Linked DNA regions of Homo sapiens. The protein of the gene in region 3 purifies or fractionates together with the protein of the main gene of each other region. This does not show direct contact. Each region holds a gene or a part of one and is shown on either strand. Other genes may lie near its edges.

Evidence for each region. The genes of interacting proteins can lie anywhere in the genome.
Region 1: the proteins of HNRNPR (region 3) and ILF2 purify together in Homo sapiens (affinity purification with mass spectrometry; 5 studies listed by BioGRID and IntAct, with this or other methods). This does not show direct contact.
Region 2: the proteins of HNRNPR (region 3) and YBX1 purify together in Homo sapiens (co-immunoprecipitation; 5 studies listed by BioGRID and IntAct, with this or other methods). This does not show direct contact.

Annotation. Positions count from the first base shown.
Region 1 is NC_000001.11:153,667,994-153,675,753, forward strand, and holds the start of ILF2 (interleukin enhancer-binding factor 2), read right to left. Parts: upstream 3,001-7,760; 5' UTR 2,930-3,000; coding exon 2,925-2,929; intron 2,238-2,924; coding exon 2,178-2,237; intron 1,886-2,177; coding exon 1,843-1,885; intron 584-1,842; exon of another isoform or gene 565-583; coding exon 460-564; intron 85-459; coding exon 7-84; intron 1-6. UniProt on the Homo sapiens protein: Chromatin-interacting protein that forms a stable heterodimer with interleukin enhancer-binding factor 3/ILF3 and plays a role in several biological processes including transcription, innate immunity or cell growth.
Region 2 is NC_000001.11:42,692,396-42,699,417, forward strand, and holds part of YBX1 (Y-box-binding protein 1), read left to right. Parts: intron 1-1,094; coding exon 1,095-1,128; intron 1,129-3,803; coding exon 3,804-3,893; intron 3,894-4,246; coding exon 4,247-4,549; intron 4,550-4,784; coding exon 4,785-4,867; intron 4,868-7,022. UniProt on the Homo sapiens protein: DNA- and RNA-binding protein involved in various processes, such as translational repression, RNA stabilization, mRNA splicing, DNA repair and transcription regulation.
Region 3 is NC_000001.11:23,313,272-23,320,293, forward strand, and holds part of HNRNPR (heterogeneous nuclear ribonucleoprotein R), read right to left. Parts: intron 5,427-7,022; coding exon of another isoform or gene 5,418-5,426; coding exon 5,212-5,417; intron 432-5,211; coding exon 282-431; intron 1-281. UniProt on the Homo sapiens protein: Component of ribonucleosomes, which are complexes of at least 20 other different heterogeneous nuclear ribonucleoproteins (hnRNP). hnRNP play an important role in processing of precursor mRNA in the nucleus.

The sequences.
Region 1 (7,760 bases), about 130 Mb from region 3:
ACTCACCACTTCAAATGTCCCTGGAGCCACAATCAGATTATCAATCACATTGTTTATTTTTGTCACCAGAGAAAGGATAGATGCCTGAAAAACAGTATGAAACAATACTTGAAAATGAAAAATTATAAGCAATTTCTCAGAATTTGAATATTTTCTCCTAATCCCTTCCATACAAGCTGACTCAATACTGACATAGGGCTTTAAAAACACTTCATTCTGGCCTTGAATATATGGGAAGAGAACAACTCTTTGTCCCCAGTAAAAATAAGAATGCATATGTAATTTGTTTATATATCCACCTGGCTATCTCCACCCACAATGAGAAATAAGGAGAACAATTAAACCCTTTGTGGATTTCAGGCTCTGTTAACACCATTCTTAACCTTACCAACAGTTACTCTTTACCAATACTTTTAACTGCTTTAGAGACATTTCTGGAAGACAGCCAAAAGAACATACCTGTTCAGCAGAATTGGGAGCCAGGTCCTGATTCCTCTTCAGCAAGGCCTCACTGAAGGAAGTTTCATCAGGTGCTGGCTTGACCCGGGGAAAGGCCATTTCACACTAAACCAGAAGTAAACAACTACATTCTATTTGCCGAAGATAATATACAGGAGAGATTGTTTTTTCTATTACTACGACAGAAAAAGGTTAAAAACAGAAAATTCTACACTTGTTTTTACTGCTTAATTTGTTCAATTAGCTGGGCGTGGTGGCTCACACCTGTAATCCCAGCTACTTGGGAGGCTGAGGTGATAGCTGGGCGTGGTGGCTCACACCTGTAATCCCAGCTACTTGGGAGGCTGAGGTGAGAGAATCCCTTGAACACAGGAAGCGAGGTTGCAGTGAGCCAAGATCGCGCCATTGCAACTCCAGCCTGGGCAACAGAGTGAGACCCTGCCTCAAAAAAAAAAATTTATTCAAAGGCCAGGCACAGTGGGTCACGCACACCTGTAATCCCAGCACCGTGGGAGGCTGAGGTGGGCAGATCACTTGAGGTCAGGAGTTCAAGATCAGCCTGGGCAACATGGTGAAACCCCGTCTCTACTAAACAGACATACAAAAATTAGCTGGGCATGGTGGCAGGTGCCTGTAATCCCAACTACTCAGGAGGCTGAGGCAGGAGAATCGTTTGAACCCTGGAGGCAGAGGTCCTGATTCCTCTGCCTCCCAGGTTCAGTGCAGTGAGCCAAGATTGCACCACTGCACTCCAGCCTGGGTGACAGAGTGAGACTGTCTCAAAAAAAATAAAAAGTTCAAACAAGGATAAAAGCTGGAATAGCCATAATTTAAGCTATCACTATCTTTATAGTAACAGATATACCATAAATACAATTACTTGTTCAGAACAAAGATTATAATCATGTTTAATGCCAACAGTAGCCAAGGAATTATTCTCCCCACCATGCTTACACTGTTTCTGTATGTAAAGCAACACACAGTTGACTCAAAACCCCAAATCTTTTCACAAATCACTTTCCCTCCCTATTTCAACCATCTTTTTTTTTTTGTAGTGGTGCCATCTTGGTTCACTGCAACCTCCGCGTCCCGGGTTCAAGCAATTCTCCTGCTTCAGCCTCCCAAGTAGCTGGGATTAGACACATGCCCAGCCAACTTTTTTATTTTTAGTAGAGACGGGGTTTCACCATATTGGCCAGGCTAGTCTCAAACTCCTGACCTTCAGGTAATCCATCTGCCTCGGCCTCCCAAAGTGCTGAGATTACAGGCGTGAGGCACTGTGTCTGCCCTCTTCAACCACCATCTAACTTCATTAACTGGGAGATACTGGGCTCCATTTCAACAGTGACCAGAAAATGTGTATCATTAACCCAAGGTACTCACCAAATAGAAGTCAAATGGGATATGTGGTACAAAGGGCCTGAACCTAAAACATGAAAAACAGCCAAATTATTCCCTAGGTAGGAATCAAGCGAGATGTAAATAACACGCCAACAATTTTGAAAACATGTCAGTCCTCAGAATGAGTGACAAAGTCTCCGGGGAGGGAAAGAATCATTCTTAGCATAGTGGGGCCAAATTCATTTAACAGGAGTGCAGGAAAAGACCACAGTTGGCTCTCGCAAAACCAAGTGACATTAGTCTACTCTAAAACTCCTATTTAGATGACAAGCAGAAACTAACAACCAAGTGCAGAGATGCTAAAAGCTGGTACTCACCCTCCTCCTGGGCCTCCTCTGGAACCAAAGCGCCCACCACGACCACGGCCTCTGTCACCCCTAGAAATGCAGATTTTATTTTGACCTCATTGAAGGAATACCCACCGGCCATATCATCTTAGGTTGGCTACTTTCATCCCTCGGAACCTCCCAACGGTAGGCAAGAGACCCCACTCACACTTACACTTGTCCCCATTCCAAATGGTGCCCAGTTACACCCCCATAACCTCCTCTAAGTTAATCCAACCCCCATCAAGTAATGATGGGGCTCAGTGAGCCCTACACTTAATAACCCATAATCCTGGGCCACACGAATCCTAATACTTCGGAGGCTAAAGATTGCTCATTTCTTCACTAAGGTACACATTTATCGGGCGTGTCCTAATGTCAAGGCCTTCGCACTGAGGATGAATGCGGCTCGCTCCAGCATTCTCAGCCCGGATGACGGGGGCGGGGGAAAGGTGGGGAGCTCCTCCAGGGGCTTGAGGACACCCCCTCATCGCAACCCTTCAGAGACAAAGGTGTCGAACCCCCCTCCCCACTCCTGGGCCCGAACCCCATCCCGGGCCCAAGTTTCCCCGCCTCTACCGGCCTCCATCTCTCCCACTATCCTAGACCAGGAGTTCTCAGGTTTTTGGCCAGCCCCCGGATACATGGCCCTTTCTGATACTCCGACTTCTTTCGGCCCACGTTCACAAAGTTTTCCGTCGAATACCTGAAACCTTTCGACCGCTTCGACCCACTTACCTCATGGCGCCTTAAAACACGAACAATGGAGGCCGCACCAACCGCCCCTTCCTCTGAGTAGCAGACAACTGAAGAGGCGTCTTGCCGGCGTGTCCCAATAAAACCCGGTGCGATTGGCTCCCGCCTTACCCCATCGCTTATGCCTATTGGCTTACTTTGTCAAACCGGGCTTATGAACCAATAAAAAACGCCTACTGTGTCAGGAACTAGCCAATAAGAACTGGTTCTATAGTAATGACGAATTTTTGATCAGACATTAGGTGGCACTAAAGAAGTCAGGACAACGACTACGTAGTGTTCTATAACAATCATGAGAAATTTTAGTTCTAGATAGCAGAGTGGCGCAGCGGAAGCGTGCTGGGCCCATAACCCAGAGGTCGATGGATCGAAACCATCCTCTGCTATCGGAGTTTTTTCATTGCCCTGTACGGCATACGTAATCTACGTTTCTTTAGTGAAGGAAAATATCTTGCCAATTTTCCTACCTCAAAAATGCAACCAATATCAGCTATTTTTGCCACTAGCAGTTGAAGTTGATGGGGAAAAGGGAGTTTAGGCAACTATGAACACTGCACGTCTACAAACTCGAAGCAGGAGAAACAGGTTTTAGATAGGAGAGGAGTATATTGATTGAATTAGTGTGGAAAACATGGTTTTCCATGTCCATGGAAACAGGTGATCCACCCGCCTCAGCTTCCGAAAGTGCTGGGATTACCGGCGTGAGCCACAGCGCCCAGCTTGGTTACATAAATTCTTTAGTGGTGATTTGTGAGATTTTGGTGCACTCATCACCCGAGCAGTATACACTGAACCCAACTTGTAGACTTTTATCCCTCACCTACCTCCCTTCCATAAGTACTTTTTCGATATTTAATTTACTACAGCAGAACGTAAACATCTTAAGTCTAAACGTATTCTGGCCACGTAACCACCATCCAGATTAAAATAAATATTATTAATTTTTAAAAAACAAGCAAACAAAAAGCGGACCGAGTGCGGTGGCTTGTGGCCACCCAGCACTGTGGGAGGCCGAGACGGGTGGATCACCCGAGGTCAGGAGTTCGAGATCAGCCTGGCCAACATGGTGAAACTCCGTCTCTACTAAAAATACAAAAATTAGCCGGCGTGCTGGCGGGCGCCTGTAATTCCAGTTACTCAGGAGGCTGAGGCAGGAGAATCTCTTGAATCCGGGAGGCGGAGGTTGCAGTGAGCTGAGATGGCGCCACTGCACCCCAGCCTGGGCGATAGAGGGAGACTCCGTTTAAAAAAAAAAAAATCTTACTTGAGGTTTGTTGAGCTTCTTGAATCAATGGCTTCAGGTTTGTCGTCCATTTATTAAATTTATCAGCTATTATCTCTTCAAGTATTAGTTTTACCTATTATTTCCCTCGTTCCTGAACTCCAAATAAAGACGGGTTAGACTTTTCCCCCAGTAATCTCTTTGTCTCTTACCCTCTCTTCTATTATTTCATTTTATTTAGACACAGGGTCTCACTCTGTTGCCCAGGCTGGAGTGCAGTGGTGCACCATCATAGCTCACTGCAGCCTCAACCTCCTGGCCTCAAGAGACTCTCCCATTTCGGCCTCCCTAGTAGTTGGGACTACTCAAAGGCACAGGCCACACCACTCCGAGCTAATTTTATTTTTTTTTTTGAGATGGAGTCTCCCAGGCTGCAGTGCAGTGGCGCTATTTCAGCTCACTGCAACCTCCGCCTCCCCGGTTCAAGCGATTCTCCTGCCTCAGCCTCCCGAGTAGCTGGGACTACAGGCGCCCGCCACCACGCCCAGCTAATTTTTTTTTTTTTGTATTTTTAGTAGAGACGGGGTTTCGCGGTGTTAGCGAGGATGGTCACCATCTCTTGATCTAGTGATCTGCCCGCCTCGGCCTCCCAAAGTGCTGGGATTACAGACGTGAGCCACCATGCCCGGCCCTGCCCAGCTAATTTTTGTATTTTTAGTAGACATGGGGTTTCACCATGTTGGCCAGACTGGTCTCAAACTCCTGACCTCAGGTGATCCTCCTGCCTCTGTCTCCTAAAGTGCTGGGATTACAGGTGTGAGCCACCTCCTTTGGCCCCGGGCTTACTTATTTATTTATTTTTGTAGAGATGGGGTACTTTATATGTTGTCAAGGCTAGTCTTTGTTTTGTTTTTGTTTTTGTTTTTGTTTTTGTTTTTGTTTTTGTTTTTTTTGAGACAGAGTTTCGCTCTTGTTGCCCAGGCTGGAGTGCAATGCGTGATCTTGGCTCACAAACTCTGCCTCCCAGGTCCAAGTGATTCTCCTGCCTCAGCCTCCCGAGTAGCTGGGATTACAGGCATGCACCACCATGCCTGGATAATTTTGTATTTTTAGTAGAGACAGGGTTTCTCCATGTTGCTCAAGCTAGTTTCGAACTCCCAACCTCAGGTGATCCACCCACCTCGGCCTCCCAAAGTGCTGGGATTACAGGCATGAGCCACTGCAAAGGCCTTTTACCCTCTCTTTTTATGCTTTTCATTCCTTTTTATCCATTCTTCATTTTAGGTAGTTTCTGCTGTCCTTTCTTCCAATTTATTACTTGCTCCTCAGTTTAGTCTAACATAGTATTAAATCTATCATTTGGTTCTTAATTTTGGTCTTTTAATATTTTGGGTCTGTATTATTATTATTTTTGAGACAGGGTCTCACTCCTGTTGCCCAGGCTGGAGTTCAGTGGCATAAACACAGCTCACTGAAGCCTCAACCTCTTGGGCTCAAGCGATCCTCCTGTGTCAACCTCCAGAGTAGCTCGGACTATAGGCATATGTCACCACACCCAACTAATTTTTTAATTTTTGGTAGAGATAAGGTCTCACTATGTTGCCTAAGCTGGTCTCCAACTCCTGGGCTCTAGTGATCCTCACCTCAGCCTCCCAAAGTTCTGGGATTACAGATGTGAGGCACCAAGCAGGACCTTAGATTTTCTATTTATTCTACTCCCAGGTTGCCCCTAGGAGTGCAGCCTTTTGAGATCCTAGCCCAAAACACGAAGGTGGTTTACCAAGGTTATCACCTTTGGGGACATTTGGACTCCTTTTTTTTTTTTTTTTTTTGAGAGTGAGTTTCCCCCTATTGCCCAGGCTGGAGTGCAGTGGCGCAATCTCGGCTCACTACAACCTCTGCCTCCTGGGTTCAAGTGATTCTCCTGCCTCAGCCTCCCGAGTAGCTGGGCTTACAGGCATGCACCACCACGCCTGGCTAATGTTTGTATTTTTAGTAGAGATGGGGGGTCTCACCATCTTGTGCAGGCTGGACTTGAACTCCTGATCTCATGATCCATCCATCTCAGCCTCCCAAAGTGCTGGGGTTACAGGCATGAGCGACCGTGCCTGGCCCTTTTTCTTTTTTTTAATTTAAAAAAATTGAAATGGGGTCTCGCTCTGTTGCCCAGGCTGGTCTGAAACTCCTAAGCTCAAGCCATCCTCCCGCCTTGGCCTCCTAAAGTGCTGGGATTACAGGTGTGAGCCACCACACCCGGCCTGGACTTCACCGGCCCCACACAACCTATTTTCTGCCACTAATTCCAAATCAGCAAATGACCCCAGGGTAAAATCAGCCCTACTGCTGGGCTTACTTCTCTACTTTCCTGTACTTTCATGCTGTCACACCAATAATTTCTCACTATCTTATTTTTTTAATTATTATTATTTTTTGAGATGAAGTTTTGCTCGAAATGGAGTGAAATGGTACGATCTCAGCTCATTGCAACCTCCGCCTCCTGTGTTCAAGCAATTCTGCCTCCGCCTCCCAAGTAGCTGGGATTACAGGCACCTGCCACCACGCCCGGCTAATTTTTGTATTTTTAGTAGAGACGGGGTTTTGCCACGTTGGCCAGGCTGGTCTCGAACTCCTGACCTTAGGTGATCCACCTGCCTTGGCCTCCCAACGTGCTAGGACTATAGGCGTAAGCCACTGTGCCTGGCCTCACTATCTTATTAGTTCTTTTATTATTATTTATTTATTTATTTATTTATTGTTTTTTTTGAGACAGGGTCTTGCTCTGTTGCCCAGGCTGGAGTGCAGTGGTGTGATCTCGGCTCACTGCAATCTCTGCTTCTGGGTTCAAGTGATTCTTGTGCCTCAGCCTCCCGAGTAGCTGGGATTACAGGTGTGCACCACCAAGCCCGGCTATTTTTTTTTTTTTTTTTTTGAGACAGAGTTTCACTCTTGCTGCCCAGGCTGGAGTGCAGTGGTGGGATCTCGGCTCACTGCAACCTCAACCCCCTGGGTTCAAGCAATTCTGCCTCAGCCTCCCGAGTAGCTGGGATTACAGGCACCTGCCACCACGCTTGGCTAATTTTTTTTTTTTTTTGAAGAGACGGAGTCTTGCTCTGTCACCCAGGCTGGAGTGCAGTGGCGCGATCTCGGCTCACTGCAAGCTCCGCCTCCCAGGTTCGAGCCATTCTCCTGCCTCAGCCTCCTGAATAGCTGGGGCTACAGGCGCCCGCCACTGTGCCCAGCTAATTTTTTGTATTTTTAGTAGAGACAGGGTTTCACCATGTTAGCCAGGATGGTCTCAATCTCCTGACCTTGTGATCCGCCCATCTCGGCCTCCCAAAATGCTGGGATTACAGGCTTGAGCCACTGCGCCCGGCCCAGTTCTTTTATTTTTATTTTTATTTATTTATTGTTTTTTGAAACAGGGTCTTGCTCTGCTGTCCAGGCTGGAATGCAGGTGCGCAATCTTGGCTCACTGAAACCTCTGCCTCCTGGGTTCAAGTGATTCTTGTGCCTCAGCCTCCCTAGTACCTGGGATTACAGGCATGCACCACCAAGCCCGGCCAATTTTTTTTTTTTCTTTGAGACAGAGTTTCACT
Region 2 (7,022 bases), about 19 Mb from region 3:
AAGGTCAGTTTTCAGTCACTTGCCTTAAGTCGCTTTTACAGTTTACCTGTTCTGTTTTTTTAATTATCCTGTTCCCATCAATTAAAAATGTTCTTATAATAATCCAAGCTATAATTTACAGGTCAGATTTAAAGTTAATTTTATGTGGATCCTTTGATGCATATGTTGCCCCCAGTTCAGCAAGAAGCTAACAGTCAGTAAGCCAGTTTGTCCAGTTCATTGTAACCTTTGTTCCCTTTGTCATTAAACGCTAGAGCTACTACTGAGCTTTTTCTCACTCTGACCTGACGGAGTAAAGAGGGTGAGGCAGGCCACTGCAGGCCTGGAAATCCGTTTCCTTCTCCAGTGGTGATTCTTGCTCCTCGTGTTATCACCTTAATCCCAATATCCAGGCTAAAAAGTGAGATTATTCTCTACCCCCTCGCTTCTGACATCCAGTCATCCACAAAGTTTCTCATTTTGCCTCAAAAAGAGATCTCAAATGTCTTTTTATACATGGCTCCGTGGTCTAAACCTTCATCAGTCCTTGTCTGGACTTGTGGAGTAGCTTTTATAACTGGGCTTTTCTTACATTCAAACATACCTTATCACCCAAAGGTCACAGTTCCCATTAGGTTTCACTCTTTGCGTTATACATTCTGTTGGTGGGGAGGGGGGTTCTCATTTTTATGATCTCAAGGAAAGTTGGTAGTTGGGAGATGCAGGATAAGGTGAGAATGTAACTACTACTTCTGTTGGTAACCATGCTCTAGAGGTAAGAGGAGGGTGTGCTAGAACAGTTAATGTTTAATAGGATAAGGAGGGGCAGAATATATTTTGCTAGTCATTGCTACCCTCTTAATTATGGCTCAGTAGGTCACACTTTAATTTCTTAGACTTTTTTTTTTTTTTGCCTATCTTACGGGTAATGAGGCTACAACTGTTTGCAACTGCTGAAGTCTTGAAAGCAGAGAGCATGGTGGCTTGTGTTTTTTGATTTTTGCCAAATTTCCTGGTACCTAATTGGCAGCCAGAGAGTCTCTGGGAAAATTAATCTTTGACAACATGAGATTTATTTCATTTTCTAACTTGTTCAACTTGGTTCTGTCTTGCAGGAATGACACCAAGGAAGATGTATTTGTACACCAGGTGAGTGCTTGTGTAGATATTTGCACTTCTGATTCAAGGATTGTAAGAAGAAAAGGTTAGATATGTTCTCAGCTTTTGTTCCTTATAAAAGGTTAAGTCCAACCACCAGTTTATTTACTTACGACAGGAGTAGTAGCATGCTTAAAAATGTATACGTGGAAATGTGTTAGAGTTGACTTAATTATCCTAGACATTTCAAATTGGAATTTTGTCAACAGCTGTGGCTTTCTCAAATGTTGAGTCAAACTCACTGCATTAAATATTTATACCTAATTTCAGATGAACAGATTATTCCATGATTCTAAAGTTGAACAAATAATGTTGCTATAAATACACAGAAACTTTGGCAAGAAGTTTTCAAAGGCTTTTAGGTGTACCTGTAGGGACAAATCTCCATAATCAAGGGTAAATAAGACAGACCTGCAAAACATAGTAATTGAAGTGAGTACTTGAAAAGTAGCATAAAGAGCCTTCTGCTTACTTTAAATCACTTTGAATGGGTATTGGGTTTTTTTTTTTTTTAAACCTTTGGAGAGTTTTGGCTGGCTTGGAAAATGAAAAAATTTCACTAGTTTAAGGTTAAGTGGGGGGAAGTGTGACAAGGTTGGCAGCTGCTCATTAAATAATTTTTAGATTGGCTTCCAGTGATTTGGGAAGAGAAAACTGTTAACATAGGATGAGTACTGATGAGTACTGCATAGTGAACTTTCTCCCTAAGTATCATTTAGGGAAAATGTTTGCACATTCAGGAATTAAGATTATTACTAATGTAAACCACTGCCAAGTGTATGTTAATACTTCAAATTTAGATATGCTGTAGGCTACATTGAATGTACTTATCCTCACAGATACGAAATGAGTAGGAAAAAATATGTTTGTGCTATCAGTTTTCTCACTAAGGCTTTTGAAATATTGTCAACTTGTATTAAAATTAGAGACCATAACTACTTTTTTGTACTATAATCCAGAAATCAAAAGACCTAAAAGTTAATATCCATACTCACATTTAATTAGATACTAGCTTTTATGGCAGCATGTTTCATAGGAAGGGCTGTCATAGGTTGGTGCTTTGTAGCTCACTGAAGTGTCCTACACAGTATTTGATGACAAGGAGGAAGCTATATCAATTTCTAGTACACCCAAACCCAATCAGGTAGTTCAGGGTCAAATGTAATTATGGAATCATTTAAATTCTAAATGTAAATAAATACAGGACTACTTCAGACAAAATGTTGTTTTAAAGTAGATGTTTTATAAAATTGGTATTCTTGTTTGGAAGAACACAGCTCAACTGTTCCTTACTCCCCTTCTGCATGTTCAAAAGAATGTGTAGACTTAGGAACAAGAGACAGCAAAGTTTCTCGGTCTTGTTGCCTGTTGGCAACCCTTAAGGGTTGGGGTTGGGGCAGGGGTGGAGATGTTGATAAAAATAAAGAGTTGGGATTTTAATTATCCATAATTCTGCTATCCCCTATGACTGCAGGTAATTGATAGTTGGCTATATCTGAAAGGTATGAAAACTATGTGACAGTTTAGATGACAGATGAGATCAATTATTTGACTCAACTCACCCAGTTGTACTGATTCACAAGGTGCCACCAATATGCTTTCATTTTTTTGGAAGTGGTTTCAACATGTAGTTGTTTCTTGGGACTTTGGCTGCTCAGGTCTTAGTGGTGTATCAGGGAGACTGCAGTTCTGGGCAGCTTCACTTAATTGGCCTCAGATTCGTTGATTGTCCTGTCTCCTCTGCAATGGAAATGCATGAGTGATCCTGTAATGGATATAGCTGAGATTTGGAGTGAACATGGGATTTGGAGACCCAATACCTGGGTTTAGAAAGTCTCCTTACTAACTGTGTGACCTTGGGCAAGTCACCTAACTTTAAAGCCTGTTACATTATCTGTGTAATGGGATTAACAATACTTTCACATGTCCTGTCTCATAATGAGATTGAATAGATAGTAAGTGAAAGAATGTTGCAAAAAAATTTCATAGAAACGTGAGATGTTACTCTTCCTCCCTTCTCTTAACAGTCTGGAGAAAGTAGAAGCAACAAGTCTCTAATACAAGATTTATTGAATTCTGGGGAGGTGATAACTAACAATTCCATGCAGTCAGATCATATAAAGAATGACATAGTTAATACACATGAATTGCATTTCCACTGATGTATTATCAGATTGGAAGGGATTTTGGTTGACATTTGTAATTGAGTTTGATACGGTAACACAGGGGCAAAGTTGGTTTGGTCAGCTTTGAAGCATGCAAAACCAAACTCGCCTGTCATCTAAACTGACGCAGTGTGGGGCCACCTTCTCCTATTAAGTGCAGTCCTCAGGGGATAGATGGATATCCTCATTTGTTAAAAGTTATATATAATGCTTTTGCAAAAAGCAGTTTTTAAAATGATGTGTCTGTCTTGAGTGTTAAATTACTTGTTTTAGTTTTGTAAATAGTGGTACAATGCTGGGGCCTTGTATGATTGGAGTGTTTTTGTTGAAGTTGGGGATAGTGTGGTCCCCGCTTTCCTAAATTTATTGATGGTTTGGTCTTATTTAAAGCAAATCTTAAGTGTATATCCAAGCTAAAATAATATTGACTCTGGTACATTTTAAATGAAAAAGCACATTATTCTCCCCTGTTAATCTATTTTTGGAATGTGATATTACTAGACTGCCATAAAGAAGAATAACCCCAGGAAGTACCTTCGCAGTGTAGGAGATGGAGAGACTGTGGAGTTTGATGTTGTTGAAGGAGAAAAGGTGAGGATGCTTTTTGTGTAAAGGTTTGACTTCAGTATGGAAATATTTTGGAGGTCTCATCCATTAGGATGGTGGCTCTAATGTGGATGGATGTGTTCAGGTGACCTCATGAACACAGGTGCATCAAGCCTAATGTTCTGGCTGCAGTTAGAGGGCAATCTCTTCAGAACAGTGAGGAACTGATATTTAGTCATTTCTGTGCACCCCTGGTCACGCAGTTGCGCCCCCCCCCCCTTTTTTTTCCTTAACTTTGTTGTTTTTTGCTTTGTTTGAAAATGTTCTGATTTCCTTTTGAAAGTGTTGAAAGTGTTCTGATTTCCTTTGTCACTATCAATATGTAATGGCTTTTGTAGGGTGCGGAGGCAGCAAATGTTACAGGTCCTGGTGGTGTTCCAGTTCAAGGCAGTAAATATGCAGCAGACCGTAACCATTATAGACGCTATCCACGTCGTAGGGGTCCTCCACGCAATTACCAGCAAAATTACCAGAATAGTGAGAGTGGGGAAAAGAACGAGGGATCGGAGAGTGCTCCCGAAGGCCAGGCCCAACAACGCCGGCCCTACCGCAGGCGAAGGTTCCCACCTTACTACATGCGGAGACCCTATGGGCGTCGACCACAGTATTCCAACCCTCCTGTGCAGGGAGAAGTGATGGAGGTAAGTTTCACCATCAACAACAGCAATGTGATAAGTTCTGGTAGGACTGTTTAGAGCTGTTAATTATATGGAAAGCAACTTGGATTCCTAGTAAGAACCAAAAGGATTAATTTATAATGTAGTCACAATTACTAGATGGTCTGTTTTGTTTGTTTTTTAACTCTTGGATTTATCTGGTTGGGTTTTTTTATTATATTACTGACCCAGTAGGCTTAATTTCCATTGTCTTTTTCAGGGTGCTGACAACCAGGGTGCAGGAGAACAAGGTAGACCAGTGAGGCAGAATATGTATCGGGGATATAGACCACGATTCCGCAGGTATGGTCCACGTAAACATGTTTCTATTAAAATTTCCTCAAACCCGTGTTAGGACTCAGCAATATCATGCCTCTCCTGCAGACTCATTTTTCTGTTAACACTTCACGTTTTCTTTCATCAGATGCCTAAGAGGTGAACCTATTAAAAACAGCTTGTATAGATGAGGTCTGCTTTATACATAAATTTTTTTAGAAAATGATGAGGGTTTGGAATTTCAAATTTTCTGTCCTTGAACAGGTAAGATAATATTTTAAACCACACCTTTTAAACCTGCCTCCTTGGTAGGGAGAAAGGAAAGCATTAGGAGTATCTGAATTGTACCATGGCATTAGTGAAGAATCAACAGTGTTATCACTTGAAATGGCATACATTATCTTCCACTAAACACTTCTCAGTTTAGATATGTACCCCCTTTTTTTTGGAGTTGGGAGTTGTCAGCTCAAAGTTGCAAAATGAAATTGCTCCACCAAGAATTTACATTCTGCGGGGGGAAATCCAGTCTGTCGTTAGACAACTATCTACTTGAGTGGGTATTAGAAATCTTATTAATAGATGTCATTATTAGAGTAATCGAGGAAAAATTCCATGAACCAAGCATATTTTAGTCCATGCCGTAGTATACTTTGAGGCAGTGTTCCCAGTCCCACGGTGGTAGGATAGGATGGTGTAATAGTTGTTTCTCTAAGGGTTTGATATCAAAGCATTGAGTTTTCATAGGTGATCCCCAAAAGCTGACAGGTACCTCTGAAGAATCAAACCAATACAGTAATAACGCATCTTAACTGATCACTTAAATCGCAACTTTTAAATCCCCAAATTTTTAAGTGTCAAGTTTATTATTCTAGAAGTATCCAACATATCCAAAATATACTGTGAGTCTATAAGAGGGGGTTTCTGTATATAGGTTTTTAAATTTTACCAAAGTTGGAGCACTTAGTGAAGTTTTAGGAACTAGGGAATCTAGTCGAGGTTGTATTACATGTATTTATCAGCACATGTACATTGAGAGTTTTGCAAGAGCAGCTGATGTCATCATATTTTTTGTATTAATATGTCTTGTCCTGAGTTTTCAGTTAAAAGAGCTGAGGTCCTAACTGATCACTACCACAATTGAAGATCTCTGATTCAGTTTTCTACCAGGAGATTGTGTTAGCCAGATGCTGGATGTTGAAGATAGATGGGTTTTTATTTTTCAGAGTAGGTCTAAAATAGCCTCTCATGGCAGTCCATCTGTTAAGTCCATGGGTTCCAGCAGCAGAATCTTTGGTTTACCTTTTGTTACACTGAAGAGCTTAAATGTTTTGCCTAGTTTCATTGATGTCCTTAAAAATAGCATAATTTTGTGTTTGTATTCAGTGCTTCAGTTCACCGTTGAGTAAATTGTTTGTCTTTATATTGACAAACAAGCTTGCGGTTGATTTGTCTCTTAGAAAGGTATCTTTGTCCATTGTTACCCCTCCAGTGCAGAGGTTTTTGCCTTTTGGTTTAAGTTAGACTTAATGTCTACGTGTTTCAATGTTTAGAATGCTCAGTCCTGCCAGATAGTTGCAGAAGTAACATAAAATTGCTTGGAAGTTATCAATGAATGCTAGACTTTCCAAACTGTGCAGGAATCTTTTGTTCAAATGAGAGTAAATGAAACATGCTGCCCCTAATGCATGGAATGGTGTGAAATTCTGACTGGTGTGGGTTCAAGAGCAAACTGAAAGGGAAATCTTAAGACAGAGTATAGTACAAGTGTTGCTGAAAATGAGACTAATAGTAGTAAGGGGAAAATGGGGGGTCAAAAAGGGAGGTTTTTTGTTGAGAAATAACATTTATAGGCTGAAATGCAATCCAGGATAACAGTTGATGGCAGGAAAGTGACTGCTGGAACTGTTTTCTTTCTCAGAGAGGGTAGGGTTTTGCCCACAGGTGAAAATGTTGACCTTTTGTTAGGAACCTGCCGTTTTCCTGTGTAAGAAACAAGAATACATGGGCACGCATGTGTTAATGGGAAGACATGGAAGCCTTTGGTTGCTAAATTGAGACGAAAGTAAAGAGGAAGTTTGAAAAGTTTGGGGCAAAGAACCCTCTAGAACAGAAAATAGAGATGGTAAATTTATAAGTAATAGGATAACGATCATAAATTAGAAGTGAGTTCACCCAGCTTGAC
Region 3 (7,022 bases):
TTTATACCTTGTAATACTTCCAAGGCATCATGCTATCGAATCTTACAAAACAATACAGAGATTAAAAATAACTTGCCTAAGATCACAAACTCAGTAATAACCTGGCTTTGAAATATGGAGTCTTATCTGTTACATACTATTACCACTTTACAGAGATTAAATAGAAAGAGTTCAGCAAAAGCTGACAACCAATATTGTTTCAGTTTTTAAAGTTACTTTGTGTTTGGCAAGTTTCAAAAACAAAATTCAAATATCAAGAACCAAAATTTCAAAATTCCTACCTTAACAGCTGCTCCTCTGTCTTCAAAATGAACAAATGCATAATCTTTCAACTTCTTTACTCTTTCGAGTTTTCCAAATTCAGAAAATGACTTTTCCAATATTTCTTCTGTCACCGTAGTAGCCAAGTTTCTCACAAACAAAACTTTTACCTAGTAAGCAACAAATAAACAAAACCGTCATTGGCTACTTAATTTTACCTGAAAAGTGTTTCTTCCTGTCTTCATAGCATAGCTTTTCTCCTCTAAAACATTAAGTGCTAAAAGTGTTGTTACAGGTAGTAAGAGAAATTGCTAGGAAAATGACACTGATATCAGTCACCAATTTACAAAAATTATTGGTTCCTGCCTTCTCCTATGTTGTCATTAAAGCACCTAACACTGAGTAGAACCTTCAAGGAACCAACACATAATTATTATTACCAAGTTAATCAACAAAAAGTCCCTTTCAAAACAAGTTTTTCTGTTTCTTTCCTCTAAAACTGAGTAACTTTCAAAAGTTCATATGAAAAAATAAATAAGCAAGAATAACCAGGAAAAAAAAGAGTGAAATTTAGAGGCTGGCCCTACCAAATATAAACAAACTATAATGCTTAAATCATTAAATCAGGTAGTGTTAAATTAGAAAAAAAGGAGAAAAGCTGGTCCATGCCTTACACTATACACAAGGATAAACTCCAAATAGATTGAAAATTTAAATAATAAAAGGGTGGAGGGAGGACTGTGAAATTTTAGAACAAGAATGATTCCTTTATATAACACTGGAGTGGGGATGACCTTATGACTTAAAATCTAGGAGCCATAAGAATGTTATACTCAACTACTAAAAATAAATGACTTCTATATGGCAAAAAAATACTATAAGCAAAGACAATAAATATGGATGAAAAATTTGCAACATGTATCACAAACAGCTAATCTCTCTTTTATATCAGAGCACCAGAAAATAACAAAAAGCTCAACAACTGAATAGAAAAATAGGCAAAATTCCTGAATACATGGTTCATACACAGAAACACATATGGCTCTTAAAATATATTTAAAGTTCAAACCATTCATAGTAAGAGAAGCAAATCATTAATCATTAATGGCACTGAGACATTTGTTATCAGGCTGGCAAAATTCAAAAGTTTGATTATACACTATTTTGTCAAGAATGAGGAAAATAATTCTCTTGTATTTTGCTGGTAGGAATGTAAAATAGTGTATCTCCTACAGAAAGGAATATGGCAGTATCTTAACAATTACAGATATATCTACCCTTTGGCCCACAATTCTACCCCTAAGAATCTATCCTACAGATATATCTCCACTTGTATCAACTAACATAAGCTTATTCCTTCCAGCACTGTAAGAGCAAAAGATTAGAAACAATATCCAGCTGGTTAAATACACTATAGTACCTCCACAGAATAGACTACTATGTAGTCATAAAAAATGAAGAAGAGGGCTGGGCGCGGTGGCTCACGCCTGTAATCCCAGCACTTTGGGAGGCCGAGGTGGGCAGATCACCTGAGGTTGGGAGTTCAAGACCAGCCTGGCCAGCATGGTGAAACCCTGTCTCTACTAAAAATACAAAAATTAGCCGGGCGTGGTAGGAGGCACCTATAACCCCAGCTACTCGGGAAGCTGAGGCAGGAGAATCACTTGAACCCGGGAGGCAGAGGCTGCAGTGAGCCAAGATTACACCACTGCACTCCAGCCTGGGTGACAGAGCAAGGCTCCGTCTCAAAAAAAAAAAAAAAAAAAAAAAAAACAAAAACCCAAAAAATGAAGAGGAGCTCTATGAGTTGTAGGATAGGACAACTTACAGTCAATGTGATAAGCAAGTACTGTGCCATAGTTTAGTTGGCAGTGTTTTTTAACTATTTAGTAGTACATATAGTAATGATGTATTTCCTCAGAGCTGATGAAACAGGATGGTGAATAAACAAAAGGTAGATCAGTGGATATGGTAGGCTACCAACATTACTACCACTCATCTAAGAATTAAGGAAGTATATCCATATTTGCCGAAGGAAATACTAAAAGGAAACCAGCAACTATTAAAACTGGATGCCTTATAGGAGACAAAGGGGATTTGGTAGACACAGGGATAGGGGTAGAAAGGAAATTTCTTTGTCTATACTTTTCTATATAACTTTTGAACTAAGAAAACATAGTACCTATCCAAATAAAAAACTAACATATTGAACAAATTGTTGCTTCAGATAAAGGGCTATCTAATAAGAAGATACTAATTTAAGGAGGAAAAAAACTAACATTTTCCACAAACGCTCCATCCCCTTTATTATTCTCAATTTGTCATACTAAGGTCCAGCCTCTATGTTACACAGACTCCCACTGGTTTAGTTGCTTTTTAAAAAAAATTCAACATGGACTTTTCTATGATGAAACGATAACATACTATGTGAAAATTACTTACTGAAATTGTGTTTAAAATGTTCAACAGGAAAAAGGGTCCCTTTAAGAGACATATATTTAGGCTTTTAGGTTATGGTACATTGTAAAACTGACCCAACTTGGCAAAAAAAATCTTCAGTGAATTGTAAATTGATAGTGTGAATAACAGAAGCTTTACTCAAATGGATAAACTTTTCTTTTCAATTAGGAAACAATAAAGGAGCTGGATGGGGTTGCAAGCACCCGGGAGGCTGAAGCAGGAGGGACGCTTAAGCCCAGGAGTTCAAGGCTGCAGTGTGCTATGACTGCACATGTGGGCAGCTACTGCACTCCAGCCTGGGCAACATGAGACCCCATCTTTTAAAAAAAAGAAACAATAAAGGGCTCCATAATATTTAATCCTAAGTTTATAGAGACCTCCTTTTCATTCTGAAACCTGTTTTAGATCTAGGAAAAAGGAGTTACCAGAATGAAATCTTGAAGTTTTCTAACCCTAAAAAAAGATTAGGATGAACTTCCATCTGAGCAGTTACTAAAGGTTATGTGAGAAGTGGCTGGTAAGCAAATTACAAGCTATACTTTTGGTTTTCATGGGATTTTATTCCTCTTTTATAATATTTTATTCCTCTATTATAATACATCTATAATACTATTTTAAAATATTTTTACAGAAAAAGTAATACAGGCTATACTTAGTTACTACAGGTAGATTCAAAGTTGTGGTGGATCTTAGAGATTGATCCAGGCTCAATAAAATAGATGACATTCATGTTCAGTAGTTTACCCAAAGTCATAGTTGTATTAGGAGAAGAAACAATAGGAATTAAAATCAAGCTAGTAAAAAATCAAAATAAAAACTCAGAGCTATTTAAATTCTCTATCCCTTTCCTAGACACCCATCTACTCAAGGAATATGAGATAAAAGATACTGAGTAGCACTTCTGAGAGCCTCTCTGGTTCATTCTGAATAGAACTTATCTGATTAACCCAAAGATGTCACTGCCAACCCAGACTTTATACAAGTATAAACCAGAGTTCTCCTCCAAACTACTTAGAACGAGGGTTTGCCTCCTCAAATTCTGGAATAAAAACCTTGACTTCTGACTTATCAAGAAGAATCCAACCATTAACTCATGGCCATTCAGAGTTGCTGCCTCCCTGTGAAGGGAAGAGACAACTAAAATGCTCAAGAGCTCATTGCAAGCAGCAGAAATGCAACTCTGAGGCCGGGCGCAGTGGCTCACACCTGTAACCCCAGCACTTTGGGAGGCCGAGGCGGGCGGTTCACAGGGTCAGGAGATGGACACCACCCTGGCTAACATGGTGAAACCCCGTCTCTACTAAAAATACAAAAAATTAGCCAGCTGTGGTGGCGGGCACCTGTAGTCCCAGCTACTTGGGAGGCTGAGGCAGGAGAATGGCGTGAACCCAGGAGGCAGAGCTTGCCGTGAGTGGAGATCGCGCCACTGCACTCCAGCCTGGGACAAAGCAAGACTCCATCTCAAAAAAAAAGAAATGCAACTCTGATGTGTCCCAGGAGTCGCCCAAAGGAAAACTTAAGAACCAGTACTCAAGGCACCACTATTAAGATCCTGGCAACGCAAGTACAGGAATCAGGAGGGAATTGAGGGCCCTTTACAGGACTTGCCATGCATATTTTGCCACTAACAAATAAGAGCAAACATGACAATCTTTTGCCTTTCTTCATGGGGACAATACACTAAGGGAATCTGATCATTTAAAAACAAGAGGCGGGGCACGGTGGCTCATGCCTTAATCCCAGCACTTTGGGAGGCCAAGGCGGGTAGATCATGAGCTTAGGAGTTCGAGACCAGCCTGCAATATGGTGAAATGCTGTCTCTACTAAAAATACAAAATTTAGCCGGGCATGGTGGCAGGCGCCTGTAGTCCCAGCTACTTGGGAGGCTGAGGAAGGAGAATCGCTTGAACCTGGGAGGTGGAGGTTGCAGTGAGCCGAGATCGTACCACTGCACTCCAGCCTGGGCAACACAGCAAGACTCTGTCTCAAAAAATAATAATAATAAATAAAATATTTTTAAAAATAAAAACTACAAAAAAAGCTTAAAAAAAGAAAAATTAGCTATAAATCTAAATAAAACATAATTCATGGCCAAGTAATAAAGTCATAATATAGTCAATGAAGATTATAACTTATAATCTCCAAAACATTACTTCTCTCTTTACTCAGGACTTTTAAAAAAAAAAAAAACCTCTATCCCTCACAGTGCCTAGCACTAAACAAACACCCAGTGTGTATGGGACTACTTAATTGAAGGAATTTCATTTCAGTTCCTTTTGCACATTTAATCTGCAGGAAAAGGGATTGTTAATGGAAATTCCTGGATACCAAGACAGGCTGTTAACTTTAGTGTTAAAGCCGCTCCTTGCCAAACAGTTGAAGTCTAAAGCTACAATTTCTATTTATCATAAAACTCAAAATATTTGAGCTTTATTCTGAGTACAAAATTTAAATGATGACCCTATGCCCATTCCAAGCAACTGTATTTACCTTAGCCATGACTTCTGGATCTGGTTCTTCCACAGGGTCAGCCCATTCAACTGTAACTACATTTCCCCACACTTTTACTTTTCCACTCATCAGCCGGCGTCTGGCTTGTGCTGCTGACTTGTGATCCTCATATTCAAGGAAGCAGAACCCCCGATTCTTCTTTTTGTCATCGGGTTGATGATAGAGAATAACGTCCACCAAACCCTCTGTTAAACCAACAGCCAGATATATAAGCCAAAAGCATCCACCACACATCTAGCGATTAGGCAGACCTAAATCCACTTGACGATGAGCAAAATATAAGTGAAGCAGCCTCAACATGAGTCACTAATTTTGTAGACAATTAGATCAACATAATTAGATATGGGGTTTGGGACAGTATTTGATGTTCCTTTTTAATTTTAGGGGTTCTGAAGGTACAGCCATATACAACAAATCTACTATATTCTGACATTTAACATGCTACAATGTTTTAGAGCGTTTGATATAACATGACTTTATTAAAGCACTAACAAGGATCTTAAAAACAAAATTAGTAATATAAACCCAAGAGAACTAACTTTTGACAACTAATCATGGCCAAAAATCTTCCTTGAAGCTAACTTAAAAGTTACTATTTTTACCAAGAATGGAAGTGATCACTAAATATTAGTGTTCCTCTGGTCTTAGTCCTTTGCCCTTATCTCTCCGTATGTGTTCTTTCTAAATAATGTCAGCTAGCCCTACTTTTAAATGTTACCTATACCCTTATAAATACTTAGATTTTTTTCCTACCCCAGACTTCTCTAAGCTCTAGATGTGCCTACGTTCTTACCCGATGTATCCTCTTTGATGTCTTAGACATTGCAAATTTAACTTTTCCAAAACTGAACCACCATGGCCAAAATCTGCCTTCCCTAGACTTCCTATCTAATAAACAGTGCCATCCACCTGGTTCTGAAGCCAGAAATTGGTTAGCCATTCTTGATTTCTTCCTTCATCTCTCCTATCCAATTCCAAACTCATTTACTTCTTTCTATCTCCACTGCTATTACCCTAGTCTAATCCTGTATCTGTACTAGTATGACAGCTTCAACTAATTTATCAGCTTCCACTCACACCCCTTCTCTCCAAGCCCCTATCCACAGAGCGCTAGGAATAATATCCCATAAACAAGAAATAGGTGTTATTTCCTGCTTAAAACCTTTAAATACCTTCTCATTATATATACAATAAAAACCCAACTCCTTACATGGCCTACAGAAGCCCTGCCTACTTCATTTCATACAACTCTACTCCTAATTCTACCTTTTAATAATACTGGCCTCCTCAGTTACTGTAATATACTGACTTCTTTCTTGCCTTGGAACCTTGGCACGTGTTGCTGTCTTGGAATGCACTTCCTTTTGCTCTTTGTATGCTACAACCTCTTCATCCTTCAGGTGCTGGTTGACATGTCATCTTATCAGAAAAGTCTTCCAAAACCATGGAAACAGGGATAGTAGCTATTCTCTAGCTAAATATCCTGTATTTCCTGCTTCAGTGTCTTATCACAATGTCTAAATATTCCTTTAATTTTTATTTTTTATATTCTTGGTCTTATCTCCTTTCTCAGGATATAGGATCTATGAAAGCAGAGAATATGTCTCTTAGCCATCAGTGTATCCCAGGCACATAGCACAATGCCAGCACTTAACAGGAACTTTAATAAACACCTGCTGAAAGAATGAATAAATGATCATGAAGCCAGAAGGAGCTATAGATAATAAAGTGATGAGGTCAAAGAACTGTGCCAGCAGTTGACAACACAATACTTGACAACACAATATAGC